Homo sapiens: one gene and its partners. The protein of the gene in region 4 interacts with the protein of the main gene of each other region in a biochemical or structural test. Each region holds a gene or a part of one and is shown on either strand. Other genes may lie near its edges. The genes, in order: PATJ, GRIP2, PALS2, CLDN2, GRID2IP, PDZK1 and ARHGEF11.

What was found.
Region 1: the proteins of CLDN2 (region 4) and PATJ interact in a test that uses a peptide from one of them, tested with the Homo sapiens proteins (one large-scale study listed by IntAct).
Region 2: the proteins of CLDN2 (region 4) and GRIP2 interact in a test that uses a peptide from one of them, tested with the Homo sapiens proteins (one large-scale study listed by IntAct).
Region 3: the proteins of CLDN2 (region 4) and PALS2 interact in a test that uses a peptide from one of them, tested with the Homo sapiens proteins (one large-scale study listed by IntAct).
Region 5: the proteins of CLDN2 (region 4) and GRID2IP interact in a test that uses a peptide from one of them, tested with the Homo sapiens proteins (one large-scale study listed by IntAct).
Region 6: the proteins of CLDN2 (region 4) and PDZK1 interact in a test that uses a peptide from one of them, tested with the Homo sapiens proteins (one large-scale study listed by IntAct).
Region 7: the proteins of CLDN2 (region 4) and ARHGEF11 interact in a test that uses a peptide from one of them, tested with the Homo sapiens proteins (one large-scale study listed by IntAct).

What each region holds. Positions count from the first base shown.
Region 1 is NC_000001.11:61,745,004-61,749,292, reverse strand, and holds part of PATJ (inaD-like protein), read right to left. Parts: intron 2,195-4,289; exon of another isoform or gene 2,161-2,194; intron 1-2,160.
Region 2 is NC_000003.12:14,536,814-14,541,644, forward strand, and holds the start of GRIP2 (glutamate receptor-interacting protein 2), read right to left. Parts: upstream 3,530-4,831; 5' UTR 3,496-3,529; coding exon 3,456-3,495; intron 1-3,455.
Region 3 is NC_000007.14:24,579,491-24,583,779, reverse strand, and holds part of PALS2 (protein PALS2), read right to left. Parts: intron 1-4,289.
Region 4 is NC_000023.11:106,918,388-106,923,475, reverse strand, and holds the start of CLDN2 (claudin-2), read right to left. Parts: upstream 3,075-5,088; 5' UTR 2,925-3,074; intron 1-2,924. UniProt on the Homo sapiens protein: Forms paracellular channels: polymerizes in tight junction strands with cation- and water-selective channels through the strands, conveying epithelial permeability in a process known as paracellular tight junction permeability.
Region 5 is NC_000007.14:6,506,005-6,510,293, reverse strand, and holds part of GRID2IP (delphilin), read left to right. Parts: coding exon 1-11; intron 12-141; exon of another isoform or gene 142-278; intron 279-980; coding exon 981-1,336; exon of another isoform or gene 1,337-1,388; intron 1,389-1,892; coding exon 1,893-2,309; intron 2,310-3,906; exon of another isoform or gene 3,907-4,289.
Region 6 is NC_000001.11:145,673,083-145,676,813, forward strand, and holds part of PDZK1 (Na(+)/H(+) exchange regulatory cofactor NHE-RF3), read right to left. Parts: intron 3,132-3,731; coding exon of another isoform or gene 3,076-3,131; intron 1,245-3,075; coding exon of another isoform or gene 1,188-1,244; intron 800-1,187; coding exon 575-799; intron 1-574. UniProt on the Homo sapiens protein: A scaffold protein that connects plasma membrane proteins and regulatory components, regulating their surface expression in epithelial cells apical domains.
Region 7 is NC_000001.11:157,039,243-157,042,742, forward strand, and holds part of ARHGEF11 (rho guanine nucleotide exchange factor 11), read right to left. Parts: intron 1-3,500. UniProt on the Homo sapiens protein: May play a role in the regulation of RhoA GTPase by guanine nucleotide-binding alpha-12 (GNA12) and alpha-13 (GNA13). Acts as guanine nucleotide exchange factor (GEF) for RhoA GTPase and may act as GTPase-activating protein (GAP) for GNA12 and GNA13.

The DNA of each region.
Region 1 (4,289 bases), on a different chromosome or scaffold from region 4:
GGCTCACGCCTGCAATCCCAGCACTTTCAGAGGCTGAGGCGGGTGGATCACGAGGTCAGGAGTTCGAGACCAGCCTGGCCAACATGGTGAAACCCCTGTCTCTAATAAAAATGCAACAAGAGCAAAACTCTGTTTAAAAAAAAAAAAAAAATAGCTGGGCGTGGTGGCGGGCACCTGAATCCCAGCTACTTGGGAGGCTGAGGCAGAAGAATTGCTTGAACCCAGGAGATGGAGGTTGCAGTGAGCCAAGATGGTGCCACAGCACTGCAGCCTGGGCAACTCCATCTCAGGAGAAAAAAAAGAAAAAAAAAATTACTTCATATGTATACTGCAAACACTAAAGAGGATAATTTAGAGCATTTGGCCTAGCACATGGTACACATTCAACAAATGATAACTACTATTAGCATCTCTTTTCAATCAAAATGATTTAAAACATGGCAAAACCCCATCTCTACAAAAACAAAAACTAGCTGAGCGTGGTGGTGCGTGCCGGTGCGTGCCTGTAGTCCAGGCTGAGGTGGGAGGAACCCTTGTGCCCAGGGGGTCAGGGCTAGTGAACCATGATCATGGCACTGCAAAAGCTAATAATTAAATTATTGTAGCAGAGATTTTAGTGTGTAATCAGTAAGTTAGTTCTGAGAAGACTGAAAAATAAAATGTTTCACCACTGTAGTGAGTATAAGGGAGGAGGTTATAGAGAGGACCTATAATTTGGAGTATTAATCCATTTACATGGCCAGGCGCAGTGGCTCACGCCTGTAATCACAGCACTTTGGGAGGCTGAGGCGGGCGTATCACTTGAGGTCAGGAGTTCGAGACCAGCCTGGCCAACATGGTGAAACCCCGTCTGTACTAAAAATACAAAAAATTAGCCAGACGTGGTGGTGCATGCCTGCAGTCCTAGCAACTCAGGAGGCTGAGGCAGGAGAATGGCTTGAACCTGGGAGGCAGAGGTTGGAGTGAGCGGAGATCAAGCCACTGCACTCCAGCATGGGCAAAAGAGCAAGACTCGTCTCAAAAAAAAAAAAAAAAAAAAAAAAAAAGGCATTAAGGCAGTATACACATAGCAGTGTAAGTGCTTTGGTAAACTAAACCCTCTTAAGAATAAACATATTCAGATCAGTGGCTCACACTTGTAATTCCAGCACTTTGGGAGGCCGAGGCGGGTGGATCACGAGGTCAGAAGTTAGAGACCAGCCTGAGCAACATGGTGAAACCCCGTCTCTACTAAAAATGCAAAAATTAGCAGGGTGTGGTGGCGCACGCCTGTAATCCCAGCTACTTGGGAGACTGAGGCACGAGAATCACTTGAACCCAGGAGGCGGCTCCAGCCTTCGCAACAGAGTGAAACTGTGTCTCAAAAAATAAAAATTAATAAGATATTTTAGATTCCTTTTTACATGAAATCTGTTCAAAATCTTGTGTGTATTGTGCATTTACAGCACATTTCAATCCTAACTAACCCAATATAAAGTGGCCCATGCCCACGTGTGAGAGTGGCTTACTGTAGTAAAGTTTTAATCTATGCCTTTCCAGAAAGATCCCTGTTTGGTTTTGTTTTTTCTTCCTCCACCGTGTTTTTAGGAAAGACTTCATCAGTTCAGCTCATATGGTCTCTATGCCTTTTCTTAAAGTAACTATCTGAGTAAGAGCACTCACAAACTTGAGTTCTTCCCAATAAAAAGATCACAACTCCATAATTTTACCGGAATTAAACATAAGGGAGGAACAAAAAGCAGGAGAATAACAGCTTACAGATTACAAGACACATTCTTGAACATTCTTTTCTTTCAACCTCGCCAAATCTCTGTAAGGCAGACCATTTGCAAATGGGACCAGATTCTGGAGGACCAGAATTAAATGACTTGTCAAGCGTTATATGGTAGGTGGACCCAATTCCTTGTCTCCAAACTTTACTGGCTGGACAGCTGTACGAACACAAAAAATAAGTGAGCTCTACATCTTCAGCATCGATCTATCCCACTGACTTAAAAGGAAGGGTATTGACAGGCACTAAATTTCTCCCCATTTGCACCGGAACCTAAAATAAGGGCTTTAAAAAAGGCATCCAAATCTACACAAAACCCTAAGGAAGAAAACATAGCAATGGTCATGCAAATACCAAGGTAGATTGGTCCCGTTTCTCAAAAAACTTACCAAGTTGGCTCACCAAGGGGAGCAAAGTCTTAAGTGAACAAATTAAATCCCACTTTGGCTTCCCCAACCTAATATATTCTTGTTAAACTTTAACAAAGCAAGTAAATTCAGCCTGCTGGCTCCTCAGTGTAAGGATAATTATTAAATGCTGTTAAGTAAAAATGCAATTGTAAGAACTAGAAAATGCTGAGTCATTGTCTCAGAATCACAAGGTTCTAAATGTGAATTCACTATGAGAACATATATACAGATTTTTCTCTTTAACTTTAAAAATGCAATCTGAAAGAAAATACATCCTAATGTTATTAGTGGTTATCTCTCAATAGTAGTCTGTGTACTTTTAGTTTCTTTTTTGAAAATTTTCTCCAATTTTTCTACAATGAATATGTTAGCTTTATAGTTACAGAAATATTAATGTATGGCTTAAACTTATTACGGTTTCATTAAATGCAGAATAGAGCTTAATTTTCTATTCAGCTTCAAACACAACTATTTTTCTGATGGGAAACCCATTTTATGTGACCTTGTGATATTGCATATTGGTTTTCATCCATGATTCCTGGTTTATAACTCCCATAACTCTTGTTACAGTCTTTTATTATACTGTTGGGGTGCTTTAAGTCTCAGAAGCAGTCCCCAGAAATATCTCTGACACTCTCCTGCCCCTCCTTTCATTCGCTCCTTTTTCTCCCCAAGGCAGGACTCTAATCTTCCCCTGCTTTTCCATCTTGAAGGTGGCTGTAAAGAAATTCTCTGGGCCAGAAGGGTGGCTCACGCCTGTAAGCCCAACACTTTCACAGGCCAAATCGGGAGGACGGCTTGGACCAGGAGTTCGAGACCAGCCTGAGCAATATAACGAGACACAGTCTCTACTAAAAATTTTTTAAAAGAGGCCAGGCGTGATGGCTCACATCCGTAATCCTGGCACTTTGGGAGGCCAAGTCGGGCAGATCTCTTGAGGTCAGGAGTCCGAGACCAGCCTGGCCAACATGGCAAAACCCTGTCTCTACTAAAAATACAAAATATATATATATATATTACCCAGTGGTGGTGGCGCACACCTGAGGTTGTGACGCTGAGCCAGGACAATCGCTTGAACCCAGGGAGGTGAAGTTTGCAGTGGGTGGAGATCGCGGCACTGCACTTCAGCCTGGGCAACAGAGTAAGGCTCTGTCTCAAAAATAAATAAATAAAATAAATGAATAAAAATTTTTAAAAAAAAAAATAATTGCCAGGCCCGGTGGTTCACGCCTGTAATCCCAGCACTTTGGGAGTCCAAGGCGGGTGGATCGCCTGAGGTCAGGAGTTCGAGACCAGCCTGGCCAGCATGGTGAAACCCCATCTCTACTAAAAATATAAAAATTAGACAGGTGTGGTGGCAGGCGCCTGTAATCCCAGCTACTTGGGAAGCTGAGGCAAGAGAAGCGCTTGACCCTGGGAGGCAGAGGTTGTAGTGAGCCAAGACAGCGCCATTGCACTCCAGCCTGGGCAACAGAGCAAGACTCCGTCTCCAAATAAATAAATTAATTAATTAAAATAAAATAAAGTAAAATAATTTTGGCTAGGTGCAGTGACTCACGCCTGTAATCCCAGCACTTTGGGAGGCCAAGACAGGTGGATCACTTGAGGTCAGGAGTTCGAGACCAGCCTGGCCAATATGGTAAAACCCTGTCTCTACTAAAAATACAAAAATTAGCCAGGTATGGTGGCACATGTCTGTAATCCCAGCTACTCAGGAGTCTGAGGCAGGACAATCACTTGAACCCGGGAAGTGGAGGTTGCAGTGAGCTGAGATCACCCACTGCACTCCAGCCTGGGCAGCGGAGCAAGACTCTGTCTCAAAATAAATAAATAAATAAATATTTAAAAAAATTATCTGATCTCCCTTGTCTGATTGTAGGTCATAAGACCCCCATAAGAAGGGGTCCTGCCCATACCCTGGAGGAAGGAATGCTACAGAGAGAGGCCAAGAAAAATCTGAACAGATAGGCATTGCTGGGTTTCCCTACCCCATGCTTCAATTATGTCTACTCAATGAAGTCTCCATAAAAAGCCCAAGAAGATGGGGTAGGGAGAGCTTCTCAATATCTGAACACATGGAGGTTCCTGGAGGGTGGCATGCCCCTTCT
Region 2 (4,831 bases), on a different chromosome or scaffold from region 4:
GTCACAAGAAGACTGTGTCTAGCTCAGGGAGAGTAGAAGCAGAAGTCCTCACCACAACTGTCAGTCCCCGGTCCCCTGACTTCACCTCCTGATGCTCGCCCTGGCCAGCTCCACTCCAGCACACTGCATTTTCTCACTTAATCCTCATAACCACACTGCCACTTGGGCACTGTTATTCTCCCCATTTTACAGCTGGGAAAACTGAGGCATGGAGATGCTAAGTGACTTGTTCCTGGTTACACAGCCAGAAGTGACAAAGCGGAGATTTGACCCTATGGGCCCACCCCACCTTGGCAACTGCACTCTAAAGGGAGGTGAAGCCTTCCTGGACACATCTGTCCTTTCGACCCAAGGCCCACCAGACTCACATCCCCCTAGGGCCTTTGCATCGGCTGTTCCCTCTGCCCACAAAACTCTTCCCCAGACATCATCAAAACTCCCGTCTCAGCTCCTTCGGGAACTTGTAGAAATGTCACCTCCTCAGGGAGGCCTTCCCCATCCGCCTGTTGGAACTTACACACGCACCCTGTACCTCCACACCTCCTCTCCACTCCCTCCCTGCTTCATGTTCCTCTGGGCAATCAACACCATCTAAATATTTACGACTATTTTTACTGGGATGTCAGCTCCAGGGGGCCGGGCTTCTGTCTGCCTGCTCACTGCTGTGTGCAGCGCACACATTGTCTGGCATGTAGTACATGCTCAGCAAATATTTTTTTAATTCAATTCCCATTTACAGATTAGGAGAATGAGAATCAAAGAGGTGGAATGAGTTTCTCAAGGTCAGAGACTAGGAAGAGACAGAGCCAGGACGCAAACTCAGGCGAAGGATCCCCCATGGCCACAGCCCCTGCTGTGGAGTAGGAGGCCAGGCCTGCCTGAGGAGTCTCAGAGCCAAGGGGTAGGCCTGGTGAGGGCCCCTCGGAGGAGTGGGTAGCCCAGGGCACAGCAGGGGGACCTTCACACATGTACACCCACACCCACTGAGACTTCCCTGCCCCCAGCATGGCAGCAAGTGCCTGCTCAGACCTAGCAGGCCTGGAACAAAGATGTCTTTGTGGCTGCGGAGTCAGAGCAGGCCTCCCGTCCTCAAGGCAGGAGAGTGAACATGGAGAGGGACTTCCTGCCAAAATCTGTGTTCAGGCCTACTGTGTGCCCCAGCCTGGGCCAATGGAGATAGGTCACAGTCCCTTCCTGCCAGAACTCTGGGGTTAGTGACAGGAAAGCAAGACTCCCTGGAGTGAGACGACATGCCCAGGGTGTGGGGCCTGAGAAGGGACCCACCCAGAGTCCATCAGGAGCAGAGAAAGGGCATAGGGCTGCCTGGTCCACAGAGCCCAGCTCCAATCGGGGCACTCACTGACGCACACTGCCAGTGGGCTGACTTCTCAGGGCTGCAGTCTTCTGTGCCAAATGTGGAGGTATATGGCTGTCCTTACCAGCAACAGGGGAGGTCACATGACCAGGCCTGGCCAATCAGAGGCTCAGCGATCCATCAGGGGTGGGCATGTGATACAAGTTGGACCAATGAGAGCCGTTTCTGGGGCATTTGCTGGAACTACTGGAAATAGGCTCTCTTTCCTTAGGGATGACTGAGCTGGTTGACCTTAAGTTTGAAGGTGCCAGGAACTCTCAAGGAGAGGAGAGAGTCTGCCTGGAAATGAAGCTCACTAAAGTGAAGCAGAGCAAGCTACGAAGAGACCCAGAGTCCTAATGATGTTAATTGAGCATCTGGATCCCACTGTGCCTGAAGCTCCATCTTTACACTTTTTGGAAGAAGAGCCTTGGTGCTGATGCAAACTGAAGCAAGTGTGATCATGAGGTTCTGTGACCTGGGGAGGAGACCTAGGGTGGAGGCTACAGTGGTGAGGGTAGAGGTCAAGTAAGTCATCAGAGAGAGAAAATGTCAGAGAGGTCAGGAAGGGCCTTGAATGCAAGGCTTAGGAGCTGAGCAGATTTGTGTTTTGGCAAGCTTCCTCCCATGGCAGCAAAGGGGTGGAGGCCAGGCCAGGGAGGAGACTGGGCAAAGGCCCAGGCAGTTGATGCTGACCCTGGGCCGAGGTGGAGGTCACAGGCCCATGAGGAGGGGGAGACACCTCCCTGGCAGTGCCCCAGGTAAGGTCTCCAGGGCACTGCTGCCTTTGTGGCCCTGACCACAGCAGACCAAGGTGACCCCACTCACCTGGGCCTTGGGTTGAAAGAACAGATGTGTCCAGGCCAAGAAGGCAGAGCCTCCATTTACAGTGCAGTTGCCAAGGATGGGTGGGCCCATCGGGTCAAATCCCAGCTTTGTCACTTCTGGCTATATAACCCTGAACAAGTCACTTAGCAGCTCTCTGCCTCAGTTTCCCCAACTGCAAAATGGAGAGAATAACAGTACCCAAGTGGCAGTGTAGTTATGAGGATTAAATGAGAAAATGCACAGAAAGCTTAGAAAAGAGCCTGGCCCAGAGGAAGCTCTCGACAACAGCCAGCTATTATGATTATGAGTGTTATTTTTCCTGGGTCGCTAAGGCTGGGTCCAGAGGTGACCTGGCTCTGCTCCTTGCCATGGGAAGGGAGGTGGGAATCAAAGTCCACTGGGCCCTCAGAAGCAGGGCTGGGGGCTCTGCAGTAAAAGTCATCGGGGTGTCAATCCCAGCTCGGCCACTGCCCTCCCTGAGCCTTGGTTTCCTCCTCTGTCCACTGGGACCACAGTCCTTGCCCTTGGAGCTGTGGTGCAAAGATATGTCAAGAGCGTGGGAAGAAACCAGTGAGGCAACCCCAGGGCAGTGAATGCAGTATGTTCTGGTCCAGGCCCCAAGCTCCCTCTTTGGAGGAATAGGGTGAGCCCAGGCTGAGGCTGGAGAGACAGATGGAACAATCGTGTCTGCCCCTCCCCTGGGTCCCAGCCTCAGCACACCCAGGAATGTGGCAGCTGTGATCCCCCATCCCACACATTCCCAGAGCCCCAGGGGCTCACCAGTCAGACCCCCAAACCAGAGTTTCTCCTCCTGCCGAGAACCAGTCTCCTGCCCAGCTGTGCCAGCACAGGAACTCCTCACCACCACCTTGCCCATGGGCCTTGGGCTCTCACCCCTCTGGGTCGGACACTCACTCCCACCAGGCAGCTGTGCAGATCCTGAGATTGGGCAAAAGGCTTCGCTCACACCCAGATAGGACCAGCCTTCCCCCTACAAGGCTGAGCACTGCCCTCGGAACCTCCAGACCCGCCTGTTCTGCCTGCCTGTGCTGGACAGCCCTGGGGGAGGCTCAGCCATCCTGCTACAGGACAGTGGCCAGGGTCAGACAGACAGCCCCAGCAAGTGTCCTGCCCCACCCTCCCCAAGCCCTGGGTCTCCAGGGAGTGGCAGTCCCAGGTCTCAGCCATCCAGTCCCCTCTCTCTGGGCAGCAGCTCCAGAGGGATCTATGTGTTCAGCCCCATCACTCTGCCCACAGACCCCCCATTACGTACCCGCCTCTCCAGGGGTCTCCCGGCTGAGCCCACACAGCATGTTCGCTATTGTCTCCCCTGCTGCCCACCAACTCCCTCGGGAGCCACGCTGCTTGGCCCTCCCTCCCCTCCCCAGGGAGGGGCTGTGGGAGGGAAGCTCACAGCTCCCACTGGCTGGGCACCGAGTCCACCCACTGCAGCGGGCGGCTCTCTGCTTAAAGGGGACATGGCTATTGTCAAGGCTGGCTCCAGGACAGGGTCCAACATGCCCCACCCCTGCAGCCTGGGTCTGGACAGGGGGTCTTTGAAGGTGGCATGCCTGGGGCTTCCCCCAGGGCTCTCAGGCAGAGAGAGAGCCTGCTTCTAACTTGCCCTGGGACTTTGGCAAACGACTCTTCCCTCACTAGGCATCAGTTTTTTCATCTGGAGACAGGGAACAGTGCTTTCCAAACTTTTTTTTTTTCTAAACGGCAGATTCCAAGAGAATTTGCACAGAACCCCAGGACATAAGCTAGATGAAGCACAGACTCTTTGACTGCATGAACAATGCCAGGGCGTCTCTGTAGGTCTCAGCTTAGAAACCCTTGAGCTTGGAGACCCTCCAGGGCCCTCCCACCAATGTTCCAACTACCTCTCCTAGGTATCAGTTTTCCCTCGGTAAAATGGGACTTAGGAAAGATGAACCCGGCAGCCTGCCACGTGGAGTGGCCACCCAGCTTTTTGTGAAGACCAAGTGAGCTGGGTGGAGGATCTGCCCGCCTCTGGGCTTGATAGGCAGGGCCAGTTGGTCACAGGCTCCAGCCACACCTGGCAGGCTCTGCCCCGTCCCAGACCCAGCTGGGCCTTAGCCTTGCACACTCCTGGGATTCCTCCACATTGGCTCAGGACTGACCAGGCTGATCTTAATGGACACCTGAGGCTCCTCCTCTACCTGTCTGTGAGAAGGGGTGGCAGGCTGCACCCAATTTCCCCTGCCCTCCATCCCACCAGTGTGTGCTGGCACCAACTGAGGGTCAGACACCAAGAAGGGTGGGGTGATGGTGACAGGGCACTGAATGGTGGATGTCAACAACCTGTACAACTGCACAGTGCGTCTGGCAACAGAGAACCAGACAGACAAGGCCTGGCTCCCATGGAGTTCCTGACCGCGTGGGAACACACGAGCCTCATATTTCTTCCATGTGCCCTGCAGCTAGTGGGAGAGGGCTGCCCGGTAGTTAGGGACCCGAGGTTTCTTGTGGGTTCCCTCCAGAACAGTGACCCCAGCATGGAATTTAGCCACAATTCCTGGGCCGCCCCACACTGGCTCCTGCCAGCCCAACGCTAGTGGCACCTTTAGAATAATCCAGGTTCTAAATCTGGGGCAGGGCTACTTGTGCTTTTGTATCTGCAAACTC
Region 3 (4,289 bases), on a different chromosome or scaffold from region 4:
ATGCTAGATGACAAGTTAGTGGGTGCAGCACACCAGCATGGCACATGTATACATATGTAACTAACCTGCACAATGTGCACATGTACCCTAAAACTTAAAGTATAATAAAAAAAAAAATTAAATAAATATTTAGCATGGGAAAAAAAAAAAAAGAAAGGATCTGAATAAGATATCCTCAAAAATGCCTCCTAGGATTTATAACCACTTTATTTGGGGGCAGGGGACCTTATTGAAAGTCGTGAAAAGTTTCTTTCAAGAAAGTAATGGTGAATGGAAACTAATTGTATAGTATCTGGTATTTCCAAATTGAATAGCATAAAATGATAATCTAACATTTTAATTGGGTGAATAGTAAAACTTTATAAAGATCATTAAATTCCTTCACGGAAAATTTCTCTACCTAGTTGTTTTCAAGAGCTTAATGCTAAGGATTGGTTGGTGATGGCAAACTGAGACTACTTTGTCTCACAAGATAGTCCAACCTTTTAAAAATAGGGCTTACATTTTTTTTTACTGACCTCCATTCCAAAAGATTACTAGCTAAAAAATAAAAAACATTTAAATTGATTTGTATAAAAATATGAATGATTTCCAGGCACGGTGGCTCACGCTTGTAATCCCAGCACTTTGGGAGGCCAAGGCAGGCAGATCACGAGGTCAGGAGTTCAGGACCATCCTGGCCAACATGGTGAAACCCTCTCTACTAAAAATACAAAAATTAGCTGGGCGTGGTGGCACACATCTGTAATCCCAGCCACTCAGGAAGCTGAGGCAGGAGAATCACTTGAATCCGGGAGGCAGAGGTTGCAGTGAGCCGAGATCACGCCACTGCACTCTAGCAGCCTGGGTGACAGAGCAAGACTCTGTCTCAAAAAAAAAAAAAAAAAAAAAAAAAAGCATGACTATCATTTCAAAAATAAGCAACTTTAATAAATTAAACTTCTTTACTCAATTATCTGAGTTTCTTATATCAAAGCTCTTTATAAGAAACCCAATTATTGGAGTTTCTTATACCTTCTAGCTCCTTATACAAGGATAGAAGATAGAAGGATATTAAAAGAGGAATAAAAAAAGCAAATAATTTTTTATTTATGTAACTAAAGTTAGGTTTTCCATATAACATTTTATTATGTGCATATAGACATACATATTCTAGTAAATAAAAAGAAGACAAATCCACTCAAAGATAGCCACATTCAAACTTCAAATAATATTTATTACAGTTAATGAAAAAAAAATCAATGTTTCTTTTAGAAAAGTAACGCAAGCACTAAGCTGGTAATACCAATAAAGTATTTATAGTAATATTCTATAGATTATTTATAAACTCTGCCATTACAGAACTAAAACAAAATGTTCTGAAACATTCAAGAATTTGTAAACAACTGACATTAGCCCTCACCATATCACCAGATTGGATGCTGTTCAAATGAGCTGCGACTAGAATTAGTATTCCCAATTCCTTAGCAAGCCATTATTACAAAATAGGATTTCATTTTCTTTATATGCATCATATGCTGTATTTGATACAAGATGATGGGAGTTATATTCTTTATATGAAAATCAGTTGATGCTTTGGGAAGACCCCAAAAAAGCAAGTGACAAAACAACAAAACAAAATGATAAACTGCTGTAAAATTAAGGGTAAAACAAGTATAAACAATTGAGGAGTCATAAAACATTAGAAATCTAGATCTTATATGCAGACTGCTTCACAAACTTTTAAGTTCTCACTCCAAAGCTGGTAATCAGTGATAATGCATTGGCTTATATAAGAATGATGACCCAGAGTTCCTGGCAAAAGACACATACTTAAAGAAAAGACTGACACATGAATGTAGATTTTTAAGTAATATATTATTTAAGATATGTGTCAATCGTTTATGACTCTTCACTTAAATCACTTTCAGTCAGCCAAAACTACCACCCGTTCTGATCAAATCAGATTAAAGGCTTTTACTCGTAATAGAGGCATCAAAATTTTTTCTGGATACCCCAAAAAAGCTATTGGCAATAGTTGCCTTTAGAATAACGTTTCTCGGCTTCATCACTACTGACATTTTGGGCTGGATGACTCCTTGTTGAGGGGGGCTGCCCTGTGCACTGTTTGCAGCATCCCTGACCTATACCTTATACATAGTAGTAGCAACACCTTCCCAGTTGTGACAGCCAAATATTCCTGGAGATTGTTCAGCAAAATCATCCCTGATTGAGAAATACTGACTTAGAAAGTGATGAAGATGGGACAAAAAGACTTATCAACTCCTCCTCCCTTTTCTGAACTATTTAAATTACCATTATGGTAGGCTGAATAATAGTCTCCCCCTCCACAAGATATCTATGTCTTAATTCCTGACACCTATGAATGTCACCGCATTTGGAAAGTTTCACAGGTGTGATTAAAGATCTTGTGATGGGGAGGTTATTCCAGAGAGCACTAAATGCCTTCACAAGTGTCCTTCACAGAGGGAGATTTCCCTTTCTCTCTGACACACACACACACACACACACACACACACACACACACACACACACGTGGGGAAATGAAAGACACAGAGCTGAAAGATTTCAAATGCCAGCCTTGAAGACTGCAGTGTGTAGCCGCAAGCCAAGGAATGCCAGAAGCCACCAGAAACTGGAAAAGGCAACAAGTAAGTTCTCCCTTAGATTCTTTGGAGGAAAAATGTCCCTGTTGACACCTTGATTTTGGCCCAATTATACTGATTTCAAATGTCTGGCCTTCAGAATCGTAAGAGAATACATTTATTTATAAGCCACTAAGTCTGTGGCAATTTGTCACAGCAGTCACAGAAAACTAATACAATCATAAAAAGATTTTAGTGACTTAAAAAACATAATTTTAAAATCTGCAACAAGCAGATGAGATAATGTGTGGAGAGCATTTAACATAGACCTTGAAACATGGTGGTATCTATAATATTATCAAATGTTTACATCAGCATTAACTATGACTAAACGCCAACCTCTTGATAGCAAGAAGAAAAAACAAGGAAGCTCAACTAGTAAAACTGGGTATATTTGTTCAAGGCTCATGTGAACGAAAACACATAAATCATCTACTCATGTGATGAGTGTACTTGCCAGTTGTATAAGCACTGTGTTATAATTTGTTCTGTACTGAAAAGATAAATTATGGATGAGGCCACCTAATGATGGCTTCCTTGGAGAACCATGCCTGAATATTCATTAGTAGAAAAGAAACAAGAAGGCAGAGGAGGGAAGAGTATGCAAGAGAGTAAAGCAATGGGGATCAATGAGGTATGTGCAGAAGTATTGACCTGGTGAGAGACCAAGTTCCAGCATTAGAGTTACCTAAATTATATACAACCTCAAAAGCTTTGTTGAATGATTTCATTATTAAAATGGAATATTCCACAGGATGTATTATTTTACACTCAAATGGTGGCTCCTGGGGATTTTAACAATATAAACATGCTCCTGCCCCATACCAGACCTACTAAATTAGAATCCTTTAGCGTAGGATAGCTCCAAAGGATTCTGATGCCCACTTAGGTAAAGAATCCCTGCCAGAGTCACTTCATGGTAAAAATGACCTACAGAACAAAATATAAAGTATTTATCCTTGAAATATGCATTTAAGTAAATCAGCTTAGTATTTTCCTAAGTTAAAACTTCTCCCAACATGTACCCCTCTGAGTTCCACCACAGAATTTCTCTAAACGAATCCCTCACCTTTCACTTTTCCTTTCCTAAGCATATGGCCCCCAGTCTGCTCAGAGAATCATTTTCCCCACACTTTCTCATACATTTTTCTTTAAAAGTCCCACATATCTCCAGCTGCCCTATTCTATCTTTTAAAAATATTAATCCTACCCAACTAATATCTAATAATATCCTACAGAACAAAGCAACTATGAAAAAGTTCCATTAATATGCTATACAATAAACCAAGATTTATAAAAAATTGCTCTATTGCCTATTCTAATAAATATTCTAAGTAGATTTATCAAATGAAATTGAAAATCACTTTTTATAAAAGATTTCTTCCAAAAACATAAGAATTATGAACTGGGTCTATAAAAAGGTGATAAGCTAAGCTCCTTCAATTAAATCTTTACTTAGTGCTACTAAGTAGGTAACAAAGTGCTGGGCTGTGTGAAGGATACAAAGTATCGGAAAATCTCGGTGATTTATAAACAACTTTACCAGTACTGGGGTAGAAGAAAGGGGAATGGAGAAGATGGAAAGGGGTAACTAAATACCACTCAAAAGGTATCTCTTTTTGGGGGAGGAAGCCTGCTGTTTCA
Region 4 (5,088 bases):
ACCATAGTTCAGACTATGCAACCATCGTTTCTTGTCTATTTGAAAATCTCATAGACACCTCAAATTGATCTCTCTAATTCCACTTCTGCCCCAATCCTGCAATAATGAATTACCTACCCAGTAGTCAAAGATCTTTGTAAAGTTGAAATCAAATTGTGACTTTCACCTCACGCTTTGCCATGCTTAAAAATCTTCAGGAGCTCAGCCGGGTGCGGTGGCTTACGCCTATAATCCCAGCACTTTGGGAGGCCGAGGCGGGCAGATCACGAGGTCAGGAGTTTGAGACCAGCCTGGCCAACATAGTGAAACCCCGTCTCTACGAAAAATACAAAAATTAGTTGGGCGTGGTGGCATGTGCCTGTAATCCCAGCTACTAGGGAGGCTGAGGCAGGAGAATCGCTGGAACCGGGAGGTGGAGGTTGCAGTGAGCCGAGATTGTGCCACTGCACTCCAGCCTGAGCGATAGAGCAAAACTTTGTCTCAAAAAAAAAAAAAAAAAAAAATCTTCAGAGCTCTTAAGTATTTCAGGATGAAGTTCAAACTTGCTAGCCCAGGAAACCAAGAAAGCCCTCCATTATTTCACCCCGGCTTTTCTTCACAGCCTCATCTCACACCATTAACCTCCAACCTCATGCTTTATGCTCCTATACATACACATATGATCCAGCCAAACCTAAGCACTTGAATTTCTCTGACTGCCTTTCTCTCTGTCTCCAAGCCCGTAAGCATGCTATTCTACCATCCACCATTTGCTTGGATAATTGCAAATCATCTTTGAGGATGCATCCTTGCCTTGAAACCATCCTTGGGCCCTCCCTGCTCCTCACCCAGGCTGGGTTCAATACTTTTCCTTTCTTCCTCCTATTTGTATCTGAGCTTTCAGTGAGAATTGGTGAGATACCTTGAGGTTTTCAAGGGGAAGACCTACTGCTTCCCAGAGGAGCAGCTCCTGCTTCAGCCTTCCTGGGATGGCAGCTGAAGAGTCAAGCTTGAGTTTCCCAAGGGAATCAACAGTGTCCCCAAGAGGAAAGCCTCTCCCCAGAGCCTGTCCTAAGTAGTAGTAAGTAGGCAAGTGTTTTGGGGTGAGGGAGAGGGCAGAGTCAAGAAAATGCCATTACTGAGGCTTGGAATCTCTAGAGTCTGACTTGGCATAGCAGCATGCCCAGGCAGGAGGAAGAACAAGTTATTGGAGCTTATTCAAGTGATAGAAATGGCCCCATGGAGGGGGGGTTCAGCTTTCCACCAGAGTTAGGAAGACCAGCTAAATGGCGAATGGTTGGGTGGTGAGACAGGCTGGATTCAGCCAGGTTTTTGTTTGTCTGATGAGCAGTAGAGGTGAGGGCAGACAGGGTCCTGGTGTTAGAATCAAAAGATCTAGCTTCTTGTTGTGTCAGTTCTGCCTAGAACCTGCTGAGGAAGTCCTATAGCTTCTCTAGGCCCTAGTTTGTCATCTCCAAGATTTTTAGTCTCAAATAAAGGCATGGGGACAGGAAGCCACTTTGACAAATATAGAAGACTGAAGAGCTGTTATTAGAAGCAGCCAGTTTTAATAGAAGCCTCTCTTTGAGGGATCCTCCTAGAAGTCAAGTACTGGCTGCGTTGGAGGTACAGAGGACTCTAGGCCTTGTCAGCTGAATTTGTCTTCTGGGCATAGGGCCAACATACTCCATGGCCCAAGGACTGGGCAAGAAAGTTTAACTTAGGATCCTTACTTAATCTTCCCTAGTGGGGAGATTGGAGCTGCAGGAGAGGATTAGGAGGGTCAAGATTGACCGCAGCTCCTGACTTAACCCCTTCTCACCTAGGTACTTTCCCTGCTATTCTCCCCATCTCTTGCTCCAAGAGTCTTGTGCATGGTACTCTTTCTTTGGCAGTACCCTCCTAAGACTACATGGGACAGGGCACTTGGGGTTCCCAGGCTCAAGGAAGGAACTGATGTGGCCTTCTGGGGGTGATGATGGCCACCACAGCCCTCTTCTGTCAGTCAGCCTCATTTCTATATCCCTTGATCTCACTGCCCCTCATAAGAATCTGAGACACTTGCCCCCTTCTCTGAAACTCACTTCCAGCTGCCAAGGGCACTAGTAGGTGGCAAAGCCATTCCCTTGAGGCCCTACTTTCTTGAAAGTTTGTCCTTAGAGCAGTTCATCTTTCCTTCTACATCAATTGATTGATGGCAGTTCAGAGAATTGCAACTGGATTGAGAGATTTTCTTATTGTTTGAAAAAGAAGTTGATTTTTGTCCTGATCATCAAAGTAAAGCATTCTCACTTTAGAACACTGGAAAACACAGAAAGGCAGAATTTAGAAAACAAAAATCGCCTACGATCTCCCCGGCCATAAGTGCTGTGAATGTTTTGGTTCCAACTGCATTTTCAAAGAGGGCACTTGAAGAGAGTAATACCTCAGTCGAAAGAAGGAATTTCTAATGACAGACTTGCAGACCAGTGAGGGAGAGTCCTTGAAGGACCTCATGGGGAAACTTTATGACTTCACTTAGGAACCCACCTTCTGCTACCTCCCTGAGCCTTCATGCCAAGGAGGGCACTGGAGCTGGCTGTGAGGGAGTGCCCCTTCTGCCACTCCTCAGTCCCCTACACTTAGGCAGAGGGGTAAACTGTGGCTCCCTTCCTCCAATTTTTATCCCAGTCCTTTTAAGCCCCCAAACCAGAAAATATCTGATTTGGAGAGTGCTTTCTCTGGTCCTGAAGTTTTAAAGATTTGAACCTTTGTGATAGCTTTGAGGGAACAAATACCACCAACCCAAATGCCACCGGAGTTTCCCCTCCCATACCCTTCACTCAGAAACCCAAGGTGGCCCAGCCTGGCTCCACCATGGGGTGAATGGATAGTGACTAGGAAGGAAGAGTGCCCACCTCGGTGAATTTAAAAGGCAGCAACTATATCAGGATGGAGATACTTACAGGGCAGTTCTTTGCAGAGCCTTGGAGGGGGAGATGCCCCTGGAGAGGGAGAAAGGGATCCTGAGGGAGGGGAGCGAAGTACAAGGGGCCACGGGCTGAGGTGATAAAGGATTTCTAATCGTTAACCACAGCTTTGCAAAATCCATCTGCAAATCTGAGCCGTGGGTCAGAGACTTATTACAGATCAGAATTAAACCCCTGGAGGCTGGGAAAGATTGAGGCACTTTAGAAAAAAAAAAAAAAAGGTTTGGTGGGTTTTCTGTGTGTGTTTTTTTTTTTCTGTCAAAAACTCCACTCCAGCTGGGCTTTTGTGTGGTGACCTCTGTGAACCCAGGAGAGGCCTTGTGGGGAGGGGGATTTGGCCCAAGAAGGAATTCAGAACATTCCAGCTTTGAGGGTGGTGAGAGGAGGGGGCTCTGTCCCACCAATTAGGTGTCCCTGGCTAGCAGCCCTGAAGCCCAGCAGGGAGTAAGCTGCATAAACACAGCCCTGGTGAGCCAGTGCCCAAGCAGCCCTGCATGGCCTGCAGCTCCATAGACTTTTCTACTCAGCTTGATTCTCTGGCAGGCCCTCAGCCCTACCCCACCCCTAAGGTTGGTCCCAAGGCTCAAGGGCAAACATGGGTACTGTAGGTTCAGACTCTGAGTTCAAAGAGCAGGTCCTACAAGGTGGAACTGAGTAGGCCAGCATAAGGACAGGGCTCTCCTTTTTACCACACATGGCAGTGCCATGCACTATGTCATTTAAGCCTCTCAAAAGTGCTGTGAAGGCCGTGTGCAGTGGCTCACGCCTGTAATCCCAGCACTTTGGGAGGCCGAGGCGGGTGGATCACCTGAGGTCAGGAGTTCGAAAACAGCCTGGCCAACGCGGTTAAACCTTGTCTCTACTAAAAATACAAAAATTAGCTGGATGTGGTGGTGCGCACCTGTAGTCCCAGCTACACGGGAAGCTGAGGCAGGAGAATCACTTGGACCCAGGAGGCGGAGGTTGCAATGAGCCGAGATCATACCACTGCACTCCAGCCTGGGTGACAGAGTGAGACTCCATCTCAAAAAAGCAAAGCAAACAAACAAAAACCCAAACAACAACAGAAATAAAACCAAACCAAAACAAACAAACAAAAAAACATGCTGTGGAGTAGTAGAGCGCAGTGACTGGCTTTACTCTCCCAACGCAAAAAAGCTTTCTAGTTTTTTCTAAGTAGAAAAATACTAGATGCTATTGAAAAGAATTCAGAAAATGAATTATAAAGAAGAAAATAGAGGTCCTCATAATGCCACCAGCCAGAAATAATCATTGCTAACATTTTGATGTATTGTAGAAGATATCGATGGGATTTGTTTTATAAAATTGAATCACACTATACCTACAGTTTATGTAACCTTACATCATTTGTAAATAACATATCGTGGACCTATTTCCATGTCAATTAAAACACAGAACTACATCATTCTGTCATGGCTGCACTGCATTCTATCATATAAAATATGATTTATTTAATCGTAAACTACTAGACGTTTTGTTATTTTCATTTTCACTATAACCCAGCATCTTTGCACATAATACTGACAAAGTCTTAAGAATAGAATTGCTAGGTGAAAGAGTGTGCATGTTTTAAAGGCCAATACAACATGTTACAAAAATAAGACAGCCATTACTATTTCCAGATGAGGAAACCTCGGCCCAATGAGATGAAAAGAGTTGCCCAACATCCCAAGTTGAGCAGTAATAGTTAGACTTGGAATCTAGGTCTGTAGATATCTAGCTTGGCAAACTTTGCAGTGTACAACACCAACTCCCTCCCAAGGATTCCCATGTACAAATGATAAGGCCACGGTTCATTGAACACTTGCTAGGTGCCAGGCACTGTGCTGAGGTGTTTCCTATCCATGGTCTCACTGTGCTAGTACAGAGCAAGGCCTGGGTACCAAACCTGGCCACCTCTAGAGCTTGCCTCATAGTCATTATGCTTGACTCTATTTTTCAAGTCATATCAAAGCAAACAGTCGGATTTGTTGCCTAGGGTGAACTCAGTGAAGCAAACCAGAAATCATCCTCCTTCCCAAGGCGGCCCATCCCTACCTTGCAGGTACAAATGGGGCACTGATCCCCTGGCAGTGCTCCTGAGCAAGGGTCTCTCCAGGGCACTCCCTCTTGGCAGGCT
Region 5 (4,289 bases), on a different chromosome or scaffold from region 4:
AGTCACCACAGGTAGGGCTCCAGCCTCTGTCATCTACTGTCTGGGTGTTTCCCTCCACCCCAGGCTCAGCCCTGGAGCTGCTTCTCTGCTCCATCAGGGTCAGGGTTGTCCCAGTCCCTCCCATGGCCCTGTGACCCTCACCTCAGCTGTGGATCAAGAAAGTAGCCTGGGTACCGTGGGTCGTGCCTGTAATCCCAGCACTTTGGGAGGCCGAGGCAGGAGGATCAATGGAGCCCAGGAGTTTGAGACCAGCCTGGCAACATAGTGAGGCCCCATCTCTAACAAAAAAAATACAAAATTAGCTGGGCATGGTTGCATATGCCTGTAGTCCCAACTCCTCAAGAGGCTGAGGCGGGAGGATCACTTGAGCCCAGGAGTTCAAGGCTGCAGTGAGCTATTTCGAACCACTGCACTCTAGCCTATAAGCAACAGAGTAAGACCCTGTCTTAAAAAAGAAAAAGAAAGAAGGCAGATGCCTGATTCTGAGGAAGTCCCCGAGTTAGCAAGTGGTTATTGGATAAATGATCAAGTGCAACGCGTTGTACCAGCGTTGGCACAGCTGGGAAGACAGTTGCTCTGCAGCTCAGAAGGCAGGAGCCCTGGGAGGCCCTCCTGTGATCTCAGGGCTTGCTGGGTGCGCGAGACGCTCCATGACTGTGGCTCTGGGCCCTAGAGAAACCCCTCCACCCTTTGAGTTAATGGTGTTCAGTGGCTCCCAGCTGGGACCCCTGGTGACCATTCCAAGGTGAGCTGGCGTCCAGCCTGTCCTGAGGCCGAGCAGTGCTCCTGCTCACCAGATCTGGCCTTTAGTCATGCTTGGAAGGCAGGGCCGCTCAAGGTCTTCCTGCACTGTGCCCAGAGAGGGAAAGGAGAGTGGCCTGGGACACAGAGCCAGTCTGTCCTAGGACCCTCTCTCCAGCTTGCACCTGGAACCTCGGTGCTGGCTGAAGAGGAATCCTCATACTCCATCCCTCCTCCAGGGCCCAGGACCCTGTCCGGCGTCTCATGGCCCAGCGAGCGACTCTTGCCCTCCCCCTGCTACCACCCGCTGTGTTCGGGGGGTCTGGCCTCCCCCAGCAGCTCTGAGTCCCACCCCTACGCCAGCCTGGACAGCAGCAGGGCACCCTCCCCACAGCCAGGCCCCGGGCCCATCTGCCCCGACAGCCCCCCAAGCCCGGACCCCACCCGCCCGCCCAGCCGCAGGAAGCTCTTCACCTTCTCCCACCCTGTGCGAAGCCGCGATACTGACCGCTTCCTGGACGTGCTGAGCGAGCAGCTGGGCCCCCGGGTCACCATCGTGGATGATTTCCTGACCCCGGAGAACGACTACGAGGAGGTGGGCACGCAAGCAGGTGTGGAGGGAGGCGGGTGAGGCGAGGTGTGGCGGTCTGCAAGGCAACAGTGTTCCTGGGCTCCCGCAAGGGGCCTGCTGCCCTTGGGATCTTCCCCAGGCTATCCCACTCCCTAGCTCAAGCTATCCCACCCCTTGCCCCAGGTTACCCTATCTCCTGTTCAAGGTTATCATGCTCCTTGACTGAGGCTAGCCCATATTCCCTGTCGCAGGTTAGCCCATTCCTTAGCTCAGGCTATCCCACTCACAGCCTGAGGCTAACCCGTGACAGGGTCCTGTCCTTATTCCAGGCTATCCCCCTCACAGCCTGAGGCTTACCCATGAGAGGGTCCTATCCTTAGCCCAGGCTATCCCCCTCACAGCCTGAGGTTAACCTGTGAGACAGTCCTATCCTTAGCCCAGGTGTCCCTCACAGCCTGAGGCTAACCCGTGAGATGGCCCTGTCCTTGTCCCAGGCTATCCCATGATCCTTCACTTTGCACCTGCTCTAGTCTCTCTGGGCCCAGCCTCACCCTCCCCTTGCCTCTCTCCCCACCACCAGATGAGCTTCCATGATGACCAGGGCAGCTTCGTAACCAATGAGCGGAGCAGCGCCAGCGACTGCATCAGCAGCAGTGAAGAAGGCAGCTCCCTGACCTACTCCTCCATCTCTGACCACATCCCCCCACCCCCGCTCAGCCCCCCACCACCGCCACCCCTGCCTTTCCATGACGCTAAGCCCAGCTCCCGCAGCTCTGATGGTTCCCGGGGCCCTGCTCAGGCGCTGGCCAAGCCCCTCACCCAACTCAGCCACCCAGTCCCTCCACCACCCCCACCGCCCCTGCCCCCACCCGTGCCCTGTGCACCCCCCATGCTGTCCCGGGGCCTGGGCCACCGGCGCAGTGAGACCAGCCACATGAGCGTCAAGCGCTTGCGGTGGGAACAGGTGGAGAACTCAGAAGGCACCATCTGGGGTCAGGTAGGTGACCTGGGACCCAGCAGCGCTCTGTACTGGGGGAGGATGGCTTGGGCAGCAGCACTGAAGGAAAACCCATCGGCCAGGCATCTTCCAACATCATCCTCCCTACCCCAAGCAGAGGATGAGTAGAGGCCCAGCCCAAGAACGTCCCCACGCTTGGGGGCCACTGCAGGCATTGAAGCCAATCTGTGTCCCTCAGCCAAAGACACACACTGGGGACACCTGGAAATGCCACCCTACCCATCCTTGAAACCTATCACTTTTGAGGCCAGACAAGTTCTCTTAAACCTTTAAAAGAGCAGCTGGTTCAAACTCCTGCACACCAGCCTTCACCCTTTCACTTTGATGCTTGAAGTTCCTCCCTCACAACACTGGCAGTGTATGCTTGAACACCTTCAGTGGTGGGGAACTCACTACCTGTCAAGGTCTTCCTTTCCTCACTGGACGATTTTAACCATCCTTTGTCTTGCTCTGAAATCTTGTCTCCCCAGGATTCCCATGCCCTGTTTTCTTTCTGGCCCTTAAAATCGGGCAGAGCAATCTTATCCACAGACCAACCAATCTGCAAGATGAACAAGGTTCACCCCACCCCTTTTTTTTTTTTTCAGATCATTCTCTTAGAACATGGTTTCCAACCCCCACTCCAGTGTCCATGTCCCTGTCAAAGAGACATTCCCAGATGGAACCCCCAATGGGGCTTGACCAGCTCAGAGGAGAGAACAGGGTTCTCAGCTCCTTTGACTGGGACATCATACTCCTTTTAATATGGCAGGGGCTCCTTCCAGCTCCCAGGGCTGCCCCGTCCCAGTGCTCATGATCACCATCATCCTCAACTCCATCTTCTTGGGATCAATAGCTCACTCTCACATGTAGTCACACTGGGCAGAGGCATGCTTGTGATTTTTCCCCACTGCCATCTCCTGGGTCCCAATTCTGTCTCCTGCTTTCTCAGCCCACATCTCCAGGGACCCTTTCCAAGTTGCTAATAAAGATGCCCATTGAGGCCAGGCTTGGTGGTTCACGCCTGTAATCCCAGCACTTTGGGAGGCTGAGGCGGGAGGACTGCTTGAGCCTAAGAGTTCAAGACAAGTCTGGGCAACATAGTGAGATCTTGTCTCTACAAAAAAATCAAAAAGTTAGCCAGACCTGGTGGTGCATGCCTGTGGTCCCAGCTACTCGGGAGGCTGAAGAGGGAGAATCACTTGATTCCCACAGGTGGAGGTTGCAGTGAGCCAAGATGGCACCACTGCACTCCAGCCTGGGGTACAGAGTGAGACCCTATCTAAAAAAAAAAAAAAAAAAATACCTCAGTGAGACAAGGGCACAAATAAGGACCTCCTGGGTCCCCTGGAGACCTCACTCCTGCCAGCCTTGGACCGATCTTCAAGTATTGCTCCACAGCGTGGTTCTTCCATTGGTTACCAAAGGTGGACACAGGGACACAGGTCACACATGTGGCCAAACCCAAATCCATCCTCAGTGTCCCTGCCCTGCAGCCATGTTCTAAGACTTCATTCCCCTGCCTGCCCTCCCTTTGGGTTCTCTCCCTTTGGCAGCCACCCCGTCCGCACTCCCTGCCCCAGCCCCAGGCTGTTACCTCTCATCTATGCCATTCATCACAGCCACGTGTCCAGCGTCTGGCCCCTAGGCTGTCACAGTTGCAGTTCTCTCAGCACCAGCTCACTCTGCCCAGGGCAGCCCTGGTGAACTCACCGCTCTCCAAGGAGACCTGATGACAGAGCCAGACCCCTGAGCCACCTCCGGTAGCCCCTTACTTGGCTCTAGCCTCTTCACAGCTCCTTCATGCCCCCGCTGCAGTCCCACCTTGCTGGCTTCTGCACGAGTAGTGTTCCAAGTCTTGAGTCTCGATTGACCCCAGGAGGCGCTGGCTCAGCACCCGGTGACTCGGATGATCTGGCTTCTCCTGCAGTCTCCTCCTGCTCCGGGCTTTATCCCAGCACCTGATGGGTGCTTTTGCTC
Region 6 (3,731 bases), on a different chromosome or scaffold from region 4:
CTTAAGAGAATAGATGAGGAGCTCAAGAATTTATTTTTAATCATGTTATTATTTCTCCTTGAGGTATAGAAGTTGAGAAAGGTGTTCTAATGCTTTTATATTTATGAAGGCTATAACTTCCATATTCACATGATTAGTGGTATTATAAATAGTGGTTCAGCATCATATGTCTTCTGGGATGAAGGGGGATAAATAGGTCCCCCTTCTTCACTCCCAACTTGAAAGCTTTAGGGATTCTTATCAGTCCCTACAGGGTAAGGGGCATTATGCCAAATGCACAGAAGCAAACAAATATGACTGCCAATCAGGGTTGATAGTGACTGTCAACTAGAGTTCAGTCAACTCACACTGTTTGGAACAGATGTTTGGGAAACAAACAAACGTGAGCTTATGATGTACTGGTAGCTAACCTAAAGGGTGTGGGACCATGACAACATTTATCTGAACCCAAGTGAGACCCCTCAGTGTGTGCCTTCAATGGAACCTCTCTACTAAGCCATCAATGGGTGGGAAAAGCTGAGACTATCCTAATTGTGGCTGTGTTTGTTGGGCTGCTGGAACCAGATTACCATACCTCTTTGATGAATGAGCCTGGCAGACCCCGAATCGCATTTAAGTGAAAGCCATAGCCATTTTCACCTTTAGCCAGCCTGCAGAGTTTAGGCTTATGATCTACTTCCTCTGTAGTATCTGGTGGACTTGAGACTTCCAGAGAAGTGGGAGTAGGAGCTGGAGCCTCCTTGACAGAGCCATTGGGCAGTTCTTGACTTTGATAGTAGAGAAATGGAGAAAAATGAGCCTTTTGAAAAATAAAGGGAAAAAACATTAACTTAGTTGTAACCATGAGTAAGTTATACTTTGTTAAATGTGCTGATTTTTAAGGTATCATACATATTCCACTCTTCTTCTGGATGTGTCTGATTGTAGGCTGTAAAATTCCTCTACTACCCCAACCAGGAAAGGTATAAAAGAAGACTGTGCTTCGTTATGGAGTAATATGTGTATACATGTACACAAATGCACACATGAACATAAAAGCAGTATAGGATGCGGTACAAGGATCCCAAAAGAAGTCTAAAAAATTGCTAGTTTCTTTTGAGTGAGTTCATGATAGTGAGCAAGTCACTGAACAAGCTATACATAATCTCCCTGTTGGGAAATGACATATCTGACCGACTAGCCGGTACCTCATGCAGAGTACATTCTTCTGGCTTTTCCTTTCGGTAAGATGGTCTTCAGAGCTCCTTAAACACATTAGAAAAAGTAAAACACAAGACACTTGTGATAGTTAATTTTAGATGCCAACTTGACTGGATTAAGGAATACCTAGAAGCCCGGCAAAGCATTATTTTGGTGTGTGTCTGTGAAGGTGGTTCCAGAGGGGATTAGCATGCGAGTCTGAGTGAACTACAGAAAAGGCAAAGGTGTCAGTCTGTCTGCTAGAGCTGGGATACCCTCTTCCTCTCCTGTGCTTGGACATCAGAATTCCTGGTTCTCCGGCCTTTGGACTCTAAGATCTACAGCCGCAGCCCCCCAGATTCTCAGGCCAAATGCACAGAAGCAAACAAGTAGGACTGCCAATCAGGGGTGATGCCAGTAATGTGGCTCAGTCAGATTTGGACGGAGCCACACTACTGGCATCCCAGGGTCTCAAGCTTGAAGACAGCCTGTCGTGGGGCTTCTCAGCCTCCATAATCATACAAGCCAATTCCCCTAATTAATCTCCTCTCATACCTGTATCTATATCCTACTAGATCTGTCTCTCTGGAGAATGTTAATATAACACTATTTTTATCACTATCCAAAGATTCAAAGCTACTAGAAGAGACCAACCCATATACACAGGAATAATTGGTGAGAGGGTGACAGCTGTTATATGGTCACATATTGTAACAAAAGTTAATTCCAACCCTTTGCTGCTTGCCAATACCCTCCCCTTCCAGACCTGGGATCTGTGCTTATTTATTTTGCTATGTATTGTTGTAAGCATTAGCTGTCACTTCTATTATGCCAAACTCTCCAACATCTTTAAATACTCCTAATTCATATCAACTCCCAGACCATCCATGTAAAGAAATGATGATCTTGAATACCGAAGAGGCATAGAACAGGAAACAGGATTGATTTTTTTGTAATAGAATTACAAGCCTAACTGGCTGTTTTAGTTGAGACAATTAGAAGGGTGGACCTGGGTATGGTGTGATCCTGGATCAGCAGCTAAATGGCTGCCCACACGTGTCCGGAACATTTGTTAGGTGATGAGTAGGAAATCAAGCAATGGAAGGTGAGCACAGTGTGGGCTCTACTTCAAATCGCACTGTTTAGCAGCCTGACTAAAATTAGATTTTTAGTCCTCTGGTTATCATGTGTCTTACTAACCACAAGACCACATCTCCTTCCTTTCTAAGTGAGAATACCACCAGCACAGAACCTCCTAGTTACCCAGTTCAACTAACTTCAGACCTTTCAGTCATATACTTGCAACAGTTCCACAATGGAGCCTTTCTCTTTAAAATATGGAAAATTATCAGGTGACTCATTACATGCAAAAATACGTCTGATAACACTACCCAAACAAGCAAATCAACTGTATCTGACAGTCGCAGCTCATCTCGAGGCAAAGTGCAATAACATTAAAACACTTGAGATTTTGGCCGGGCTTGGTGGCTCATGCCTGAAATCCCAGCACTTTGGGAGTACAAGGTGGGCGGATCACTTGAGGTCAGGAGTTCGAGACCAGCCTGGCCAAAATGGTGAAACCTCATTCTCTACTAAAAATATAAAAATTAGCCAGGTGTGGTAGCACACACCTGTAGTCCCAGCTACTTGAGAGACTGAGGCAGGAGACTCACTTGAACCTGGGAGGCAGAGGTTCCAGTGAGCTGAGAACATACCATTGCACTCCAGCTTGGACAACAGCGGGAGACTCTGTCTCAAAAAAAAAAAATGAGATTTTATTCATGCTTCATTCAGATAATTGGGTGTCTAGTATGTGCCAGGGACTGCTAGAGGGTTGTGTTTTACTCACTGATGTATCTCAAAGATCTACCCTCCACCCCAACCTACAGGGCTTACTTTGGAGAGCGGGGAAGGAGATGATGAGGGCAGGCTTCTTTTTCGATCAAAGTTCTCTATTAACCAAAACAGAAAAATTACAATTAAATCATTCTATGATAAGATCAGGAGGGGTCAGAATCCCCTTTACAACAAACAGCTGCAGCAGCCGCCTCTGATTTCTGCTTGACTTTCCACCAACTGCAAAATGACTCATCATTTCTGGCAGCTTCAGTTGGTTCTTAAGCCAAAAGCTAGCTCCCTATGGCTTCTCTGGTCCTGTTGTGCCCCATAGGACACCTTAAAAAAAATGTGTGGCCCGGGCGTGTTGGCTTATACCTGTAATCCCAGCACTTTGGGAGGCCGAGGCGGGCGGATCACAAGGTCAGGAGATCGAGACCATCCTGGCCAACATGGTAAAACTACTAAAATACAAAAAATTAGCTGGGCATGGTGGTGCGCACCTGTAATTCCAGCTACTCAGGAGGCTGAGGCAGGGGAATCGCTTGAACCCGGGAGGTGGAGATTGCAGTGAGCTGAGATGGCACCACTGCACTCCAGCCTGGTGACAGAGCAAGACAACGTCTCAAAAAAAAAAAAAAAAAGTGTGCTCCTTCTTACATGTAATAGCCTTTCAAATTCTTGAAGATGCTCTCTTCTCCAAAGCCTTACTCAAG
Region 7 (3,500 bases), on a different chromosome or scaffold from region 4:
CAAAGCATTCTGGTTTCAGAGGCTGAAAGAACGTAATAGCTAAAAGGAATCAAATCTTAGAGGCTGGCTAGCCTAATTCCCTCATTTTTCCAAATAAGCAAACTGAGGTCGAGGGCAGGTAAGCACCTTTGCAAGGTCATTCACCCAGCTGCTAACAAAGCTGGCTCCATCATCCACGTCTACTAACTCAGATGTTGTGTTCTTTCCTCAGAACTCCAAACCTCCTTTCACAAAAGATCTAACATGACTTTTTATGAAGTTATACTTTTTTCTTTTTGAGACCAGGATCAGCAACTTCTTCAGTACGGTTTACCCCATGGGGCAAAGGAGTGATCTTGCATGCCACTAGCAGGTGTATGCTTGGGTCTTTTATCAATATAGTGATTGACAAAAGAAGGAACACCACAATCCACAGCAAAAAGAGTTTCCAAGCCACGTGATATATCTTTGAGTTAAGCTTAAAAAATAATAAACCAATAAAAATGAATTTTTAAAGGCAATGCTACTATGAAGAGGTGAAACAGATTCAGTCAATATAGATTAAAATAACTCCTCTTACGTTTATAGAACTCAACAGTTAACAAAGCCTTTTCACAAACATCAGATTATCAGAACATTAAAGCAGCAAGAAACACTATACAAACTAGAGTTTCTAAACTCCATTCCACAGAGGCTGTGAGCTTCCAGAACTCCTTTACCTTTATACTAACTAGGAGATTAGCTATGTGCTGTTCACAAAATCTTTTTATTTTTGATGAACTCGTATTGTCATTTAATTTTTCTTATTTCTTGTCTATTAAAAAAGCTAAACAAATACATTAATAAAAGGGCACTCTTTCAGAAATGTTTTTGAGTATCTGAAGTTAAGCTTAGTCTGCTCCTTCTCATAATGGTGATTAATTGCCAAATGTTTCAGCTGCAAATCCATTGTGTCTCTCATCTCACACCCCTAGATGGGAACAAGGGTACATTTTGGAAAAGACTCAGCATTTCCGGGACTTATCATACGTAGCTCTGGATCCCTGTCTCCATTCTGGGAGGCCAACCTTCTAATCTAGGTAGAAACTCAGCTAAATGTCTGGGGACTTCTTGGTCCCAGGAGTCAATAAAGACCAGAAGCCAAGGTGCGAAGAGACCCCTGACAGAGAACAGTTGCTGGGTCTAGATTTATTTTGAATTAGGAAAGTCATACGCTTTTAAGACAAGGAATGGCTGGAGATCACAGAACAAATCCTTTCTATCCCCATCACTAACAGACATTTAAGGTGAGCCAAGGTAGATGAAGTCTCTCTCATTCATCAGAGTTCCTGGGAAGGAGATTCAGTAACCCTTCTCTTCTCACATTCTTCTAGTACCCTATCTATTGGAAAAATACTCCTTCCTCCTGACCCCATGCACTTCTACAACAATAAAGCCAGTTCACTCTGCTTAAATTCTTCAAAATGATATAAAGATTTCAGTCACCTTGTTTTGTTTTGGGATACTTAGCTCAGAAAGTTGTGCACGAAGCTAAATCAAATCTGTGAATTTACCATCTATAATTTATATAGAGTTTACAGTTTAGAAAACAATTTGAAATACATTATCTCGTTTGATTTGCTCCTTTCAATAGGCTTGTGAGAGAGATGAAACAAACATTATAATCCTCAAATGACACACCATATAAAAATGTTTGAGAACTGGATTGTACTTTATAGAAATGAACTACTACTGCTTTACATGAGGAAGCCAGAGGAGGCATGTGACTTCCCCAAGGTCACATAGTTAAGGGGAAAGCCAGGACTCAAACCACAAACTCTTGGCTTAAAGTACTTTGGTTTGATCCTCACATGAACTAACTTTGGGCAGAGGAAAGATGTTTCATGGATGCAAACCCCTAACCCTCCTGTCCATCTCAAAAACATTTGCCATGGGGGAACCAGGCTAACAGATATAGATGGCTTAGCAAAACTCATGACCACTCCTGTAAAAATAATTTAGTATCATTATCTCTGTTTGCAATAGCAAACACATTTTTAGAAACTCTTGAAAGGAATATATATTAATGGGCAGTAAGTTGCCCATGGACAAAAACTGAAAGGGACATGAACAGCTACACTTTAGCCCATCTTTCAGTAACAACTGATTAACACTGAAAGATAAAGAATAGTTGCAAATACTTTATGCTTTCTATGGACCCAGGAGTCACTCTTGAACAGGGTGCTACAGGAGATGAAAGACTGCCAAGTAAATATTCCAAAATTTTCTTACTCTCAGCTACAATCTCTTTCCAAATACATAGTCCTTTATTATGTCATTTATTTTCTAGAAAATACACATTACCTAGGAAACCTTCTCTAATTGACCTTATTTGACTACATTTGAAATTAACACGTGAATGTTGAAACAACCCGCAATGAAATAATTTGTACTTGCTGATCTGTTCATTCACTCTAACATTCATTTGTCAAACATTTCTTGAGTACTCACCTCATGCAAGACACTAAGCTAGGCACACAGGATTTCATACAGGCAAACCAAACTGTCCCTGCTTGTGAGGGGCTTACAGTCTGGTGTTGCTTTATGTGGTCTTCAAGAGTCTTACGTGTTTCCCAGTCCCCCAGTTGCATGCTCTCTCTGTGAGCAAGTACTGTACACCTTAATTTTCTAAAACTCTCCTATAGCACCTTACACTAGGCTCTCTACACAGCAAACTGATAAACTGAAAGAATACTAGACTCCATAATCCGCAGCGTATTATTCCTTTCAGTGTGATTTAAATCTGTAAATTATTTAAAATCCATAGAGTCTTGAGGCTGATGTTGCCCAAAGTTACAATTGAATAAGCCTACAGTTAAGGGAGTAAGATTCAGTGCAGCTAGCTGGGGATGTCTGAAGGGGATCTGAGTCCTACCACTCTTAATGGGGAAGAGAATCAGGCAGGGTGGAGGTGAGGAATACCCTTACCCTGCAAAGCTGCACTATCTTACAAGAGAAAATAGTGCTTTAACTATAGGACTTACAGGTATGAGCCCCAAGACTGAACCCCCAAGGTAGGAGCCCCAAGACAGAAAAGTAGAAGGGAAGACCTTGACTGCTGACGGGCACTTTACCCTACTACCAAAGAGAAAGGAGAAAACGGTGCCCCACACATTCTACAGGACCAGTACAGAAGCCTAGTTAGACATGATGGGGCAATGAAAGAGCTACAGATTCAGACTCAGAAGACCTGTGTTTGAGTCTTTGAGTCCAGATTCTGCCACTAGCCAGGCAAGATGGCACTGGGCAAGCCAGGTAGCCTCTCTGAGCCTCAGTTTCCCCTTCTGTGAAACATGAATAATAACCTCTGATGCTTCTGTCTACCTCACACAGAACCACTGTGAGATTCAAATGAGATATGTTCTACGAAAGCACTTAGGAAACTGTAATGTGCTGGGCAAATCCTGAGATTTTTATCTATGAGGATATCCAAACCCCCAGGAGTGTCTCACATCAACCCAGGAAGGCTCACCGCCTCCTCC